Regions from separate parts of the Homo sapiens genome. Here region 2 is linked to region 1. A link means that fine-mapping ties the variant in region 1 to the expression of a gene that starts in the linked region. Tissue or cell type: whole blood. Region 1 holds a variant in brackets; the other region holds the start of a gene. All regions are shown on one strand. Distances are between the middles of the regions.

Region 1 (8,184 bases):
TACTGGAACATTCTCTATGACCTATTATCTCCAATGGATTAAGTGCTGACTCATTGACTCAACAGACTCAAAATTCTATTGATAGTTGTGCTTTGACTAACTTGTTATTGCAACAAGTTTTGCAATTAAAAAAATAATCCCTCATGTCCATCAACATACTAACAGTGATCATCTTTGATGAATTATGGGTAATATTTCATCTTTTAAAGTTTATATTTTCTGAAGTTTCTACAGTGAACATGTATTGTTTTATACTAAGAAAAAAGTAATTATTTTAATAACATCCTTCTTTTGTAATTATTGCCTAAAATAGTCATTCTGTTACATATAAGTACCTAGGCAGAAAGTGTTATTTCTACCCCCGCCAAGAACACCAAAAAAATGTTGTTTAAAAACTCTTATATCCAGAAACTTGAAGATAATCTATACTGATCCACTAAATAACTGCTATCTGAAATCACTATTACTTTGTTCTCCACTGAACTGCTAAGGGTGTGGTGGTGGTTGGAAAAGTCACCATTGGGCCTTGTGACTTTCTAGTGAGGTGCTGGGCCCCAAACCCTCTCTCCAACCCAAAGCTACTCTACAACAGTACAGCTGCCATGGAAAGCCTCTTCTCTTGTCATTGAACGACTCTTTTTTTTTCTTTTTTGAAATGGAGTCTCACCCTGTCGCCCAGGCTGGAGTGCAGTGGCGCATCTCAGCTCACTCCAACCTCCGCCTCCTGGGTTCAAACGATTCTCCTGCCTCAGCCTCCCGATACAGGTGCCCGACATCACACTCAGCTAATTTTTGTATTTTTAGTAGAGACGGGGTTTCACCATGTTGGCCAGGCTGGTCTGGAACTCCTGACCTCGTGATCTGCCTGCCTCGGCCACCCAAAGTGCTGGGATTACAGGCGTGAGCCACCGTGCCCAGCCAAAATGACTCTTTTAAAAGTGTTTAGAGGCTATAATCCCAGCTACTCAGGAGGCTGAGGCAGGAGAATCGCTTGAACCCGGGAGGCGGAGGTTGCAGTGAGCTGAGATCGCACCACTGCACTCCAGCCTGGGTTACAAGGGTGAAACTCCATCTCAAAAAAAAAAAAAAAAAAAAAAAAAAAGAATCAGGGCTGGGTGTGGTGGCTCATGCCTGTAATCCCAGCACTTTGGGAGGCCAAGGCGGGCGGATCACCTGAAGTTGGGAGTCCGAGACTAGCCTGGCCAACTTGGTGAGACCCCGTCTCTACTAAAAATACAAAAATTAGGTGGGTGTAGTGGCGTGCACCTGTAGTCCCAGCTACTCGGGAGGCTGAGGCAGGAGAATGACTTGAACCCAGGCGGCAGAAGTTGCTGGAGCCACTGCACTCCAGCCTGGGTGACAGAGTGGGACTCTGTCTAAAAAAAAAAAAAAAAAGTGTTTAGAATCACACAAATCAATTCAATACAACATGCATCATTTTAAATTTATGTGATAGTATGAATCGCCATACTTACTTTTATTAAGAAATTTTAAGGCCAGGCGTGGTGTCTTATGCCTGTAACCCCAGCACTTTGGGAGGCTGAGGCAGGCAGATCACTCGAGGTCAGGATTTCGAGACCAGCCTGACCAACATGGTGAAACCCCTCGCTACTAAAAATACAAAAATTAATCGGGCCTGGTGGTACATGCCTGTAGTCCCAGCTACTTGGGAGGCTGAGGCAGGAGAATGGCTTGAACTCACGAAGTGAAGGTTGCAGTGAGCCGAGATCATGCCATTGCACTCCAGCCTGGGAGATAGAGCAAGACTCTGTCTCAAAAAAAAAAAGAAAAGAAAAGAAAAGAAATTTTAGAAATGTCTATATTCTATGAGAAAACAAAATGAGGCAGATCTCAAAACAAAATTGGTATCCCCAGTTGGTTTCTCAGAAATCTTTTTCTGGAAATTAGTGAGGTTTGCAGACCTCTGTCCGCAGTGGTGGATGGAAGTAGCATGTTTATTAATTTCAGTAGCACATTATTAAACCGAAGGAGTATTTTAGAATAATATAGGTTGGCCTTTCTTCTACCTTTGGGAGTTATTAAACCCTGGCTTTGATGTCCAGAGACCTCTTTCATTAGGCACAAGAATAATGATATGGTTGTTAACTTTTAACAACTCAAATGTTCCCCAATAAATGTGCTGAGTGGTGGTACTGACCAGTAAAGCAAAAAGCCTGCAATTTGCCTGTACATGGATTACTAATGCCAACTTTTGTTGATACTAAAAGGAACTGGAAGGGAAATTCCATACTTGTCAGCTGCTCTCTAAAATTACACCAATTCTGCATAGGCAATTAAAGCCTTGAGATTATAACCAAACACTCATAAGTTTATAAACTCTGGAGAGGTGAAAAGCTGACATAGTTTTAGATGTAATGACATCTTATAAGCAAATGCTTTCAACATTTCAAACACAGCATGCCTTGCTATCTGGTGTGGGAAGAAAGAAGAAGGGAAGGGTCATTCTCCTTTTACCTTACAAATGTGTGTGGGCAAATGAATGGCTTTATGATGTCCACATCGCTGGCCTTTGTGAAAGAGAATTCGGAATTGGATCACCAAACTATCTTCATAAAAATAGGATACTCAGCCGGGTGCAGGGGTTCAGCCTGTAATCCCAGCACTTTGGGAGGCCAAGGCAGGAGAATTGCTTAAGCTCAGGAGTTCAAGACCAGCCTGGCCAACATAGTAAGATCCTGTCTCTACTAAAAATGCAAACATTAGCCAGGCGTGGTGGCGCCTGCCTGTAATCCCAGCTACTCAGGAGGCTGAAGCAGGAGAATCACTTGAAACTGGGAGGCAGAGGTTGCAGTGACCAGAGCACACCACTGCACTCCAGCCTGGATGACCAAAAAAAAAAAAAAAAGATATTTGCCATCTCTAACAAGCTATTGTATTTGCCAAAAGAGTACATTGTAAACCCTACTAGGATTATTTTACCATGACCATCCAACATTCTTTGATTAGTTAAATGTGGAAAGAAACATTTTCTTAATTAAGCAATTCTTAATTCAAGGCCCAATGTGGAATAAAGCATTTGTTCAGAGTGGTGTGGGTGTTTTGACTGCTCAAAATATGGTAAGAGCTTTTACTCCACAGTCTAAATGGAAAAAGCAGTAAGGTAATATAATAGGTTGACCGCACATTTCTTCTTTTAAAAAAATAAATAAATAAAATAATTTATTTATTTATTTAATGTAGAGACAGGGTCTCCCTATATTGCCCAGGCTGGTCCCGAACTCCTGGGCTCAAGTGATTTTCCTGACTTGGCCTCCCAAAGGGCTGGGATTACAGGTATGGGCCACCACACCCAGCCATTGACTACACATTTCTACCCTGTGGGTGCCTCAGGGGGTTGGCACTTCTGGCCAAGAATTTGAGTCTGGTCTGGGTATTTCCTAGATTTGCAAACTGGCACCCACTGCTGGTAAATGCAAATGTTCACTCCCAAGAATGAGAGTTGGGAAATTTGTTCATTTCCATCCCAGTTAGGTACATCAGGTACAGAAATAATGAAGTTATCTTAATTAAAAGAACACAACTGGACTACAAAGTGGTTGCACAGCACCCCAGGGATAGAAAAATCCAGCCCTGCTGGCAGTTTCTCTATGAACAACTCAAGCCTTTTGTCCATCTTGTGCATTTTGAATCTGAGGGCAAAACCGGTAATCTTCTTTCAGGGTCTGGGGACCTATGATCAGAATACATTTTGCTCTGTTAAGACTCAGTCTTGGGCAAAAGGAAAAATTTCTAACATAGGAAAGGATCAAGCAGTGGTTTTACATGCAGTCTTCACAGTACAGGGGCTATGTAAATTGTCATTTGTGTTTTAAAATGTGGATATGTAGACTGAGCGTGGTGGCTCATGCCTGTAATTCTAGCACTTTGGGAGACCCAGGCAGAAGAATCATCTGAGGCCAAGAATTTGAGACCAGCATAGACAACATAGCAAGACCCCATCTATAAAAAAGTCAAAATGTAGATATGTAAATATACACTTATATTTTAGCATATACATATAGCCTGGTATATACATATACCTTTTTTTCTGGAAGTATACACAAGAAATATTATTTTTTCATGGAAGGACTAAAGGATATGGGAAGGAAACTTCACTACCTATTTTATACCCTTCTATATTTCACTTTTACCATAGATATTTATTACTTTTTAAAATTAACAGGTTATTTTGATGGAATATTTAAATTTTGGAATGTTCAGATATTGTGAAATATTTAAATTTTCCTTATAGGTTTTTAATGTTAAAACTGAATATTATCTAAAAGAATAAAAAAAAGTTTCCAAAAGTGTTTTAGTTACCACATTAAAGAATAAAGACAAAAGTAGAGAAAGTACCAGAAATTTTTATAAATTTCCAAAATTTTATGAAAATAAAAGATTTGAGTCTCAGCCTCCTGAGTAGCTGGGACTACAGGCACATGGCATCATGC[C/G]CAGCTAATTTTTTATATTTTTTGTAGAGATGGGGTCTCACCGTGTTGCCCAGGCTGGTCTTGAACTCCTGGACTCAAGAGATCCACCGCCTTGGCCTCCCAAAGTGCTGGGATTACAGGCGTGAGCCACCATGCCCAGCCAAATTTATATTTTATATGTATTATTTTTTAATGAATTAAGTATAAATGGGACTCCTTGGTATTTGTTATTCATTTACTGATTCAACAAATATTTATCAAGTATGTACCACATTCCATTAAAGGAGCTAAATGCCTGAATTCAAAAATACATAAAACACAGTGCTTGCCTTCAATGCAATCACAATCCAGTGCCTTTACTTTGCAGAAAGGATGATGTCATCTCCTCAGGGAACTCCTTTTATTGTCTTCCTCGGCACTTTACAGTCAGAACATAAATTAATATTAAAATCAGAATCAAGAGAATATGTTTTTCCCTGTATCCTATATTCTTATAATTAATTATAGGCCATCTTAGTAGTTATTTTAATGTAGAAGCTAAAGTAAGAGACTAGTTAGGCCGGGTGGCTCACGCCTGTAGTCCCAGCACTTTGGGAGACTGAGACAGGTGAATTGCTTGAGCTCAAGAGTTCGAGACCAGCCTGGGCAACATGGTGAAACCCTGTCTCTACTAAAAATACAAAAATTAGCCCGGCATGGTGGCACATGCCTGTAGTCCCAGCTACTCAGGAGAGGTGAGGTGGGAGGATTGCTTGAGCCCAGGAAGTCAAGTTTGCAGTCAGCCATGATCACACCACTACACTGCAGCCTGGGCAACAGAGCAAGACCCTGTCTCAAAAAATAAAAAATAAAAATAAAGAGACTAGTTAATTCATCTGAGCAGTTACCTTAAAAATACATATTTACTTAGGAAATAGTAGGAATTTTTTTAAAAAAGAAAAATACCTATTTACAAACAAGATAAATAAACAAAATGTTTCCAGAATTCTATTCTGATACTCAAACACACAAGACACTCACTGGTAGGCAAGTTAGCTATTATTTTTATTATTCACATACAATCATTTGCCAAAATCCCTTGCCAACTTCAGAAGAATTCTCAAAAACTGACTCTGTGGTGCATCACTAAAGAAATCTCATAAATGCTTCTAAAATCTTGATTTCTTAGCCTTTTTCCATCACTAAAGCCTACCATTAAATTGCAGTCATCTAAAAAAGAATAGAGTGGCCAGGTGCAATGGCTCACACATGTAATCCCAGCACTTTGGGAGGCGGATCACAAGGTCAGGAGTTCAAGACCTGCCTGGCCAGCATAGTGAATTCCCATCTGTACCAAAAATACAAAAATTATCTGGGCATGGTAGCAAGCACCTGTAATCCTAGCTACTCGGGAGGCTAAGGCAGGAGAATTGTTTGATCCCAGGAGGCAGAGGTTGCAGTGAGCCGAGATCGCACCACTGCACGCCAGCCTAGGTGACGGAGCAAGACTCCATGTCCAAAAAAAAAAGAAAAAAAGAGTAGAGCCCAGGAATAGACTCTACATAAGCAACAATCTAGGTTTTAATCCTTGCTGTTTATTGTCTCCAAAATACATTTAAAAGTGAATTAATTAAAAATACTTTTAATGTTATTCAAAAGGATAACACCAATTGAAAAACCTCATGTGAGTATAAAATCAACAGCTGATTCGAAATGGCACATGGAAAATGTGTAGCCTTTCATCATGAAAAATGTCTAACCTTGTGATAGCACCAGAGTTGCAATCCTTTGCAAAGGATTCTGTTAACATATTTAATATTCCATGATAAATAAGGATCTGTGGTAGTTGACAAGCTTAAAGGAGAGCAAATGTGTAGATGACATACTTCCTAAGGTTCTTATCAGCTCTGAATTCTATAACAAGACAGAAATATTTGGTATAGTTCATCCTATTATTTTTGCTGTTGTTCATTCTCATTCCATCATGATTATAATTGTGTGACTTTATTATTGTGAGTTCCCTAAAATTTGCTAACTCCTTTCTCTAGCCACTTGTACCTAAAGGTTTACACTTTCTTTTTAGGGTCTCATTTTCTATACTGAATGGCCCCATGGCCACAATGAAGAAAGTCACCCTCACACTCTTAAATAATCACATCATTTTTATTGGCTTTGGTTTTTATACTTTTAAATGTATAACCATTCTAAGTAGCTAAGAAAACTGTTCATGGCTTAGCAGTTTTGCAGAACAATATAATCAAGAACACAGAAACATCCTTCTCATGGTTCCAACAGTCTCTCTATAACCACACTCCTTACAGAAAACATGTAAATGTAGAAAGATAAGATACATAACCACAAGCTTCACTACCATTTTTGTCTCCTCTATGATAACACACTGTGTCGGTTCACTCTTCTATCTATGTGGCTGCTGAAAGGTCCACCACTTCTCCTGTTTCTTCTTCTTTGGTTTCAGCCCCTTCACTCACTTTCTCATTCTCCATGTCTGTTTCCACCTTTTCCCCTGTCTCACCTGGAAAAGTAACCAAAGGAGATACTAAGAGACATTTATTTAGAATTAACATAAATTATCCCACAGTTTGTCTCCAATGGGGGCAGTTCTTGATCTTCAGGTCTAAGCAGTAAGTTTCTCTGGGGGTATCAAGAAAAGTAATCATCTCAGCTGGGCACCGTGGCTAACACCTGTAATCCAACACATTGGGAGGCCAAGGAAGGCGGATTGCCTGAGGTCAGGAGTTCAGGAGCCTAGCCCAAAGTAATGAAACCCCGTCTCTACTAAAAATACAAAAATTAGCTAGGCATGGTGGCACAAGCCTGTAATCCCAGCTACTCGGGGGGCTGAGGCAAGAGAATCACTTGAAGCCGGGAGGCAGAAGTTGCAGTGAGCTGAGATCACGCCACTGCACTCCAGTCTGGGCGACAGAACGAGACTCTGTCTCAAAAAAAAAAAAAAAAGGAAAAGAAAAGTAATCATCTCGATTCTCTCAGAGCCTCTGAATGGCTGAAATGTCGAGTCAATTAACATCTCGAGTCTTGGCATACTCTTATGAAAGAAATGCTCTCTATAAAATCAGGATGCAAAATTACCAAAGAAATGGTGGTAGAACAGATTATAATAGAAAGTTCATGGCCAGGTGTGATGGTTCCCACCTGTAATCCCAATGCTTTGGCAAGCTGAGGCAAGAGGATCACTTGAGGCCAGGAGTTCAAGACCAGCCTGGGCAACAAGACCTCCTGTCTTTACAAAATATTTTTCAAAAATTAGCTGGACAGCTGGGCGTGGTGGCTCACGCCTATAATCCCAGCAATTTGGAAAGCTGAGGCAGGCAGATTGCTTGAGCCTAGGGTCTGAGACCGGCCTGGCCAACATGGTAAAACCTTGTTTCTACAAAAAATACAAAAATTAACCAGGGATGGTGGCGCCCAGCTACTCAGGAGGCCGAGGAGGGAGAATGGATTGAGCTGGGAGGCAGAAGTTACAATGAGCTAAGAATACCACTGCACTCCAGCCTGAGTAACAGAGCAAGACTCTGTCTCAAAAGTAATAATTTTTTAAAAGAAAAAAAAATTAGCCAGGCATGGTGGCACATTCCTGTAGTCCTAGCTACTTGAGAGCTGGGGCAAGAGGATCCCTTCAGTCCAGGAGTTGGAGATTATAGTGAGCTGTGATTGCATCACTGCACTCCAGCTTGAAGATCTTGTCTCGAAAGGAAGGAAGGAAGGAAGGAAGGAAGGAAGGGGAGAGAGAGAGAGA
Region 2 (8,184 bases), 21 kb before region 1:
AGGTACTGGGCTACTGTGGGGCTTTTCTGCACATAGCAGGCTGTCTAATATCCCTGGTCCCTGCCCAATAAATGCCAGCAATGTTAGCCCAATTATGCCAACCAAAACACCTACACAAACTTCCAAAATGCCAGCCACATCAGAATTTGCCCACTTCCACTGAGAGCCACTAAATTACCCCCCATTCACTTACTTCCTTTTCCAATGCAAGACCTCACACAAAATTAAGACTTGCCTATATGGTATAGTGTTTAAGGGCTTTCACTATGGAGTTTGAAAGATGTGGGTTCAAATTCCTTCTTTACACTTTTTAGTTACATAATCTTAGGAAAATTACTTTCTCACTTTCAGCCTCAGCCTCTTCCTCTACAAGTTGCTGTGAGAATTAAACATTATATACAGGCCAGGTGGGATGGCTTATGCCTGTAATCCCAGCACTATGGGAGGCCAAGGCGAGTGGATCACTTGAGGCCAGGAGTTCAAGACCAGCCTGGCAAACATGGTGAAATCCCATCTCTACTAAAAAATACAAAAATGAGGCCGGGAGCGGTGGTTCACGCCTGTAATCCCAGCACTTTGGAAGGCCGAGGCAGAAGGATCACAAGGTCAGGAGATCAAGACCATCCTGGCTAACACAGTGAAACCCCGTCTCTACTAAAAATACAAAAAATTAGCCGGGCGTGTTGGCGGGCGCCTGTAGTCCCAGCTACTCGGGAGGCTGAGGCAGGAGAATGGCGTGAACCCGGTAGGCGGAGCTTCCAGTGAGCCGAGATCGCGCCACTGCACTCCAGCCTGGGCGACGGAGCAAGACTCCGTCTCAAGAAAAAAAAAAAAAAATACAAAAATGAGCCACGTGTGATGGCATGCGCTTGTAATCCCAGCTGCTCGGGAGGCTGAGGCACGAGAATCCTTTGAACCCAGGAGGCGGAGATTGTGGTGAGCCGAGATCACGCCACTGCACTCCAGCCTGGGCGATAGAGTGAGACTCTGTCTCAAAATAAAAAAATGAACAAACATATACATACTGTACATGGTTTTGGCTTTGCAAAATGCATATACACAACTCACTTAGCATGGGGCTTTATGCTAACTAAATGCTCAGTTTATGGTAGCTATTATTCTTAAATAATAAATGAAATAGCAGGGATTGATGCCATTTCACTGTCTCACTCCACTAATTTCAACTAAATGAAAGACAGCTATATCTACATGCAAAAACATTTTTCAAATTAAACAGTATGAAGGAAGTAAATGGAGTTCTGCAGAACTGGCTGGCTAGTGAAGCACATGATTCAGATCGGTCTGCATTAAAAGCCATTCCAAATATTTTACAAAACAACTTAGTTAACCTACTGTTACCTGCTTGAATCAGAACTCACCAGCAAGGCTAGACAAGAACACCATAGAAACTCTAGCTCCCCTCAGTATTAGAATGGTCCAAGAAAAGGTTGGTGCTGGAGGATTAGGATAACCTTGGGAACATCCCTGAGCTTTGGGTCCAGACTAAAATATGAGGAAATCAAACTGGCAGTGGTCCTCTAACAGCAGAAGGGAATGAATATAGGATGCATCTTTATGAAGTCTGAGGATTTAATTTAAAAGTTTCCAGAGGCCTGGTGTGGTGGTTCACATCTATAATCCCAGCACTTTGGGAGGCCAAGGCGGGAGGATTGCTTGAGCTCAGGAGAAACCAACCTGAGCAACATAGTGAGAACTCATCCCTACAAAGAAATCAAAAAATAAGCTAGGCATAGTTATGAGCTTGTGGTCCCACCTACTCGGGAGGCTGAAGTGGGAAGATCGCTTGAGACAGGGAGGTCAAGGCTGCAGTGAGTGAGCCTTGATCACATTACTGCACTCCAGCCTGGGTGACAGAGCAAGACCCTGTCTCAAAAAAAAAAGTTTCCAGAAGGAATCTTAACTCTTACCTTCACCTTCAAGTCAGTTTTGTCAAACTTTAATAAGCACTAAATATGTGCTGCCTTTATAAAAATATTTTCGCCAAATCTTCAAATAAAATGGATACGTTATGTTTTCTGATACAGCTTAGTATCCTCTGGCCAGACACAACCTTTGGTGTTAGTTAGTTCCCAGTTTGAGAACCTGGGAACTAACTAGATGATGTCTATTTTCTTCCAGATCTAAAAAGTTGGTGATTCAGACTTGATATAAAATCTGTCTTAAGAATAAAGGTACCTTGTTTCACAAGAAATATTTTACACAAGTTGAATCATTTGTAATGCTCCAAAATAGCTTCTTATTTAAAAACTTAAATGGTGAATTATTTTGTAAATAAAAATATGTCTTAATTATCTAGTTTAATCAGATTTAATAAACTTTTGGGCACCTACTATGTGCCCAATAGTTTCAGGCTGTGTATAATTCCAAAGTAGAATAAGAATTTTGTCATCTTAGGCAGCATTGAGAACTTGATGTGGCAGGCACTATTCTACATGACTTATTCATTTAATTCTCACAACTCTGTGGTCACTAGTATTATTCTCATCTTATAAATGAAGAAATCGAAGCACAGAGATTTTATATACCAGTCCAAGGCTACTAAGCTTGTGATTGTGCTGAGATTCAAACCAGGCAGTCTGACTCTATCCACTATTCTTTTTTTTTTTTCCACCCCTTCCCTCTCCAATCCACTATTCTTGAAACACATAACAATTAGAAAATAGGATCTCATATAATAAAATACTAAATTATGCGGTACAGCACAATAGGAAACAGGACAAGGGAAAGAAAAAAAATGAGGCCGGGCATAATGGTTACACCTGTAATCCCTGCACTTTGGGAGGCTGAGGTGGGAGAATTGCTTGAGCCCAAGAGTTGGAGACCAGCCTGGCCAATATGAAGAAGCCCCGTCTCCACAGAAAATACAAAAATTAGCCGGGCGTGCTGGTGTGCACTTGTAATCCCAACTACTTGAGATGCTCAGGCTGGAGGATTGCTTCAGCCCAGGAGGTCAAGGTTTCAGTGAGCCAAGATCATGCCACTGTACTCCAGCCAGGGTGACAGAGTGAGATCCTGTCTTGAAAGAAAGAAAACAAAGAAAAAGAAAAGGAAAGGAAGGAAAGAAGAAAAAGAAAAAAATGTGAATTGGTAGGAAAAGTCAAAGAGAAAATAGAATTTCAGTTAGCTGGAATTTGCACAGATAAGGAAGAAAGAGTATTCAGGAATCCACAGTGTGAATACAGGAGGACTCTAGTGGGAAAAGGGAGTAGATGACAATGAAACTTGAATAGGCAAGGGGAGGCCAGACTGAAAGGTCTTTTATTCCAGGCCCCAAACCAATGAAAAAGATCAGAAGGTTCCTGAGCCGGAAGTAGGAAGGCCAAAACCTTAGCAGTATGTAGGACAAAATGAGAGGGAATAAAGCAGATTTTCTTGTATTATCTTTAGGAAGCAGGGAAGGCAGAGATTTTATTATTATTTTTTTTAACTGTTGCATTCCTCCTAGCATCTAGCAGAGTGCCTTACACAAAGTAGGGACTCATATATCTATGAGTGCCCGCATAAATGAAGAAACGAAGCGTACTTACAATGCAAATATTAACAGGATAAGAAATATTTAGCCAAGTACCACCCCTTCTGACACAGCAGAATACTTACAAGGGATCTGGGCCATTCCAGATCACCATCTTTCTTTCTGAAATGATATCCCAATCACTAGGGCTCTGTTCAGACAGTGACCTTGTAAAGCCCGAGGAGCACCCTAGAGAAGGGAACACAGGAGGAGCAGGAAAGGGAACACGGGAGGACCAACGCCCAGATCTCAGCGTGGTCGCCAGAATGACCCATATTAGTCATTTGGGGTTGCAGAAGAGGGGATGCAAGCCCATTCCCAGGACGGCCTCCACCCGGCGGGGCAATGAAGGGAAATGACTGACGTAGGGGGCTCCAGCGCAGGGGCCGAAGGAGATGCGACACCAGGGAGAGGGGCCCCGGGCACAGGCAGCAAGGAAAGAGGTCAGCGGAGTCTGAGAGAGAAACGATGAAGAGGGGAGACGGGCGCCGGGAGGGGGGCCGCCGCATACAGTTCCCCCGACACTCGCATCCTGGAAGGCACCAGCCCCTCACGACCAACCTGCCAGACGCTGTGAGGAATCCCCGGGTCAGAATGACAAGCCTCCGCGACAGTACCCACCGAGCCAAAGCTCCTGGAGAGCGCGCTGGAGAGCGCATGCGCCAGACCGGGCGCTTCCTCCACGTGGCCTGGAGCGTCGCCGAAACTACAGTTCCCAGAATGCCGCACGAGCCCGCCCCCAGCGGGAGCTGTGGGGCAGAGGCGCTGCTGTGGTTGGTCAGTCCAGTAAGAAGCCAGCAGGGCTGGTGCTGGGGCTTCTTCTCCTGAAGGGGCTGCAAGAGGGAAGGCTTAGCCATGTCGTCCTTGATCAGAAGGGTGATCAGCACCGCGAAAGCCCCAGGGGCCATTGGACCCTACAGGTAACGTGGCTGGTGGAAGCTGTGTCGGACCCAGGGCGTGCGGGTTCGGGGATTCGGGGTTGGGGCCACTCCGGGCCGGAGCCCCAGCTAACACGCAAGGAAATTGAGCCTGGAAAGTAAGCAACGCGCCCGAAGACCCACAGAGAGTTGGGAGCCACGATGGGACCAGGAACCTGCACTCCATGGGACTTTGCTCGTTCTGGGGCTGCCTCGCTGCGGAGCACAGCCTGCCAGAAAGCTCTCCCCAGTTAGAAGCCTTCAGACCCTGTGTTTTGTTTTGGGGGAGGGGGTCGTTTTTGTTTTCTTGGTAACAGCTTTATTGAGATATAATTCACGTACCGTAAGATTCACCCCCTTTAACATGTACAATTCAGTGGTTTTGACCATACTCACAGAGTTGTGCAGCCATCACCACTTTCTTCAGAACATTTTCATCACCCCAAAAATAAATCCCATCCCCATTAGCATTCACTCCCCATTCTCCTCTCCCCCGGCCCCTGACAATCTACTTGCATCTTCATGGATTTGCTTGTTGTGGACATTTCCTATAAATTGAATCATAAAACATGCAGTCCTTTATGACCAACTTCTTTCATTAGCTTCATACTTGGTCTGCCTCTCTCCCAACTGAAAAGAGCCCCATCAACAGCTCCCTCCTTTAAACCTACTGCTGTGAGAAAAGGCACTGAGATGTGGCAGAACAGGAATTATTATAGAAAACTTGGAAATAAATAAAATGCAGTAGAAGTGAGAGGGCAAGTGGGGTAGGGAGTAAAGGAGAAAAAAGACAAATTGATTTTAACTTGGGGTGGAAGAGGAAAAAGAAGATTTAGGAAGGTTCCTTGTGAGAGGTAGTCCTTTGGTTTTGAAGGTTGGTTTTGTCATTTATAGTAGTGTTGTAAAGTTTGATTTTTAAATTAATTTATTAAGGATTTCAACAGGAAGTCATTGAGTGAAGGGCATGGAGGTAGAAGTCAGGTAGAGGGAATGGCTTGAGTGAGGGCATGGAGGTAGAAGAATGCATGGTATAAAGATTTTGGGGAGAAAGTTTTCATAATTCAAGTGCTACTTCTGTCTTTTTTGTTTGTTTGTTTGCCAAATCTGTATATCACTTATAATTTACTTAACCTATTTCTTTGAGATGGCTCACTTCATTTTATTTAACAAGTTAATTGAAAAAGGAAACTTTACAACAGTACACTAAATAGAAAACAATTCAATAGAAAGTAATAGTAAAAAATAAACTCAATTAAAAAAAGGTATTATTAAATTTTAGCTAGATATTGCAGTTGGCTCAAAACCTGAGGCCTGCTCTCTCTTTGTTAAGAGTGATGTTTCTTTAGCCGGGTACTGTGGTTCACGCCTGTAATCCCAGCACTGTGGGAGGCCGAGGTAAGAGGATTGCTTGAGGTCAGGAGTTCAAGACCAGCCTGGGCAACATAGTGAGACCCCCATCTCTATTTAAAAAAAAAAAAAAGTTTAATTAAAAACTTTCAAGTGATGTTTTAATTTGTTTTCTAAAGATGATTTTTTTTCTCCTTAATGTAATCAAACGGGGTAGAGTCATCATTGCTAACATTTACTGATGCTTACTCAGCAGCATTGGGCACTATCCCTTTTTTTTTTTTTTTTTTTTTTTTTTTGGAGGCAGAGTCTCACTCTGTTGCCCAGGCTAGAGTGCAGTGGTGCAATCTCAGCTCACTGCAACCTCCACCCCACAGATTCAAGTGATTCTCATGTCTCAGCCTCCCAAGTAGCTGGGATTACAGGCAGGTGCCACCACACCCGGCTAATTTTTGTATTTTTAGTAGAGACAGGGTTTCACTGTGTTGGTCAGGCTGGTATTGAACTCCTGACCTAAAGCGATCCACCTACCTCGGCTTCCCAAAGTACTCGGATTACAGGTGTCAGCCACCATGCCTGGCCAGCACCAGGCACTGTTCTAAGTTATTTATGTGCATGGTTATATTATAGTCCCTATTTTTCAGATGAAGAAACTGATGTGTGCAAAATTAAATAATTTGCCAAAAGTTACACCACTAAAAAGTGATGTAACAAAATTTGAATTTAGGAAATGGGTACTAGAGCCTAGTCTTAATCATTTACTTTGTTGTCCCTGGTGTAGATTGAAAAAAAAAATTGGAAAAGGAATCATTTTCTTACTATGTAAGACTGTGTATAAGTCTTACTGTGTATGACTGACTCCTTTGAGAAATACTGATTAAGAGTTGGACTTTGGATTTGAATTTTTGTTTTGCCTCTTTTTAATTATATGATCTTGCAGAGTGACTTAACCTCTCTTAGTTTGCTTCTTTGTCTTCTCAATGGGCATAAATAATACCATTTGATAAGATTATTGTGGGAATTAAATAAAAGTGACCAACAAAAATTAGATTTTGGCCAGGCACAGTGGTTCACACCTGTAATCCCAGCACTTTGGGAGGCCGAGGCAGGTGGATCACAAGCTCAGGAGTTCAAGACCAGCCTGGCCAAGATGGTGAAACCCCGTCTCTACTAAAAATACCAAAAAAAAAAAAAAATTAGCTGGGTATAGTGGCGTATGCCTGTAATCTCAGCTACTCGGGAGGCTGAGGCAGTGAATTGCTTGAACCTGGAAGGCAGAGGTCGCGGTGAGCCAAGATCGCACCACTGCACTCCAGCCTGGGCTACAGAGCGAGACTCTGTCTCAAAAAAAAAAAAAAAAGATTTTAGCAGGGTACAGGTTGTGGTGGTTTCCAATACTAAATGGAAGAATATAAACTTTATTTTGTATATAATAAGGAACAATTAAATGTGGTTTTTTTCTTGTGGTTGTTGTGGTTGTGTGTTTGTATGTGTGTATATTGAGACAGTGTTTCGCTGTGTCACCCAGGCTGGAGCCGGGATCACAGCTTATTGTCGCCTCAACCTCCCGGGCTCAAGCCATCCTCCCACCTCAGCTTCCCAAGTAGCTGGGGCTACAGGCTCAGGCCACCATGCCCAGATAATTTTTGTATTTTTTATAGAGCTGGGGTTTTACCATGTTGCCCAGGCTAAATGTTTTTAAGCAGGGTGGAACATGATCAGATCTTTTAAAAAGAATTCTGATAGTAATTCTGATAGAAATTTGGAGGTAAAGAAAGTGAGAATAGTTAGGGGATATTATAAGTAAAAATTTGTGATTTTTTTTCTCCTTCTGCCCTAATGTCTTTCTCTCAATCACACAGTGGTAGCATTTAGAAAAACATCTTTACCTCCAAACAAGAGGGACACAACCAAATCAAAGTGATTATTAGAGACACTTTGTCCTGGAGCCTGCTAAAGAGCATACCCCTTCCTTGACCTATTTAGAGATACTCTGTGGACTTTGTTCAGGAAAGAAAGCATAACAGTAATGTTCCTGGTTGACTTGAAGGTAGGTGGGAGTCAACTGTCTTTATAAAGCTGAAAGCTAAAAAGAGGGGAATCATCATATGAATGTGCCAGTATGACAAGAAAAAAAGCCACCAGCCAGCTTCATGGTGTGGAGACTTCCAGGACATTGTGCCTCTTGTGCACTAGGTGACTAGAAATGGTGCTTATTTTCAATAGTTAATGTTTAAGAAAAAAAACAGACTGCAACTAACTACTTATGTTAATTGGACATGTTTTAGGAACCTTTTGGGAACAAGAGTTTTTGTGCGTGGAGTGTGTAGTGAGTACACTTTTTGAAAATCCTGGGTCCTCTCCAGGAAGAATTCAAATGTGTTGAAC

Evidence for each region. PIP is the estimated chance that this variant, and not a neighbour inherited with it, causes the effect.
Region 2: it holds the start of RIDA, and the variant in region 1 is fine-mapped to the expression of RIDA in whole blood (INTERVAL, PIP 0.98).

Annotation. Positions count from the first base shown.
Region 1 is chr8:98,091,979-98,100,162 of GRCh38, reverse strand. ERICH5 (glutamate rich 5) reads right to left here. Exons shown (of 3, transcript NM_173549.3): 3 at 6,554-6,942. The coding sequence ends at 6,830. Among named protein-coding and RNA genes, the nearest start is that of RIDA, 21 kb to the left of the region's middle. The variant C/G (reference allele first, on the strand shown) is at 4,452.
Region 2 is chr8:98,113,300-98,121,483 of GRCh38, reverse strand. RIDA (reactive intermediate imine deaminase A) reads left to right here and starts at 4,313. Exons shown (of 6, transcript NM_005836.3): 1 at 4,313-4,452. The coding sequence starts at 4,388. POP1 (POP1 ribonuclease P/MRP subunit) reads right to left here and starts at 4,191. Exons shown (of 16, transcript NM_001145860.2): 1 at 4,094-4,191. RefSeq lists enhancers at 3,919-4,088, 4,159-4,208.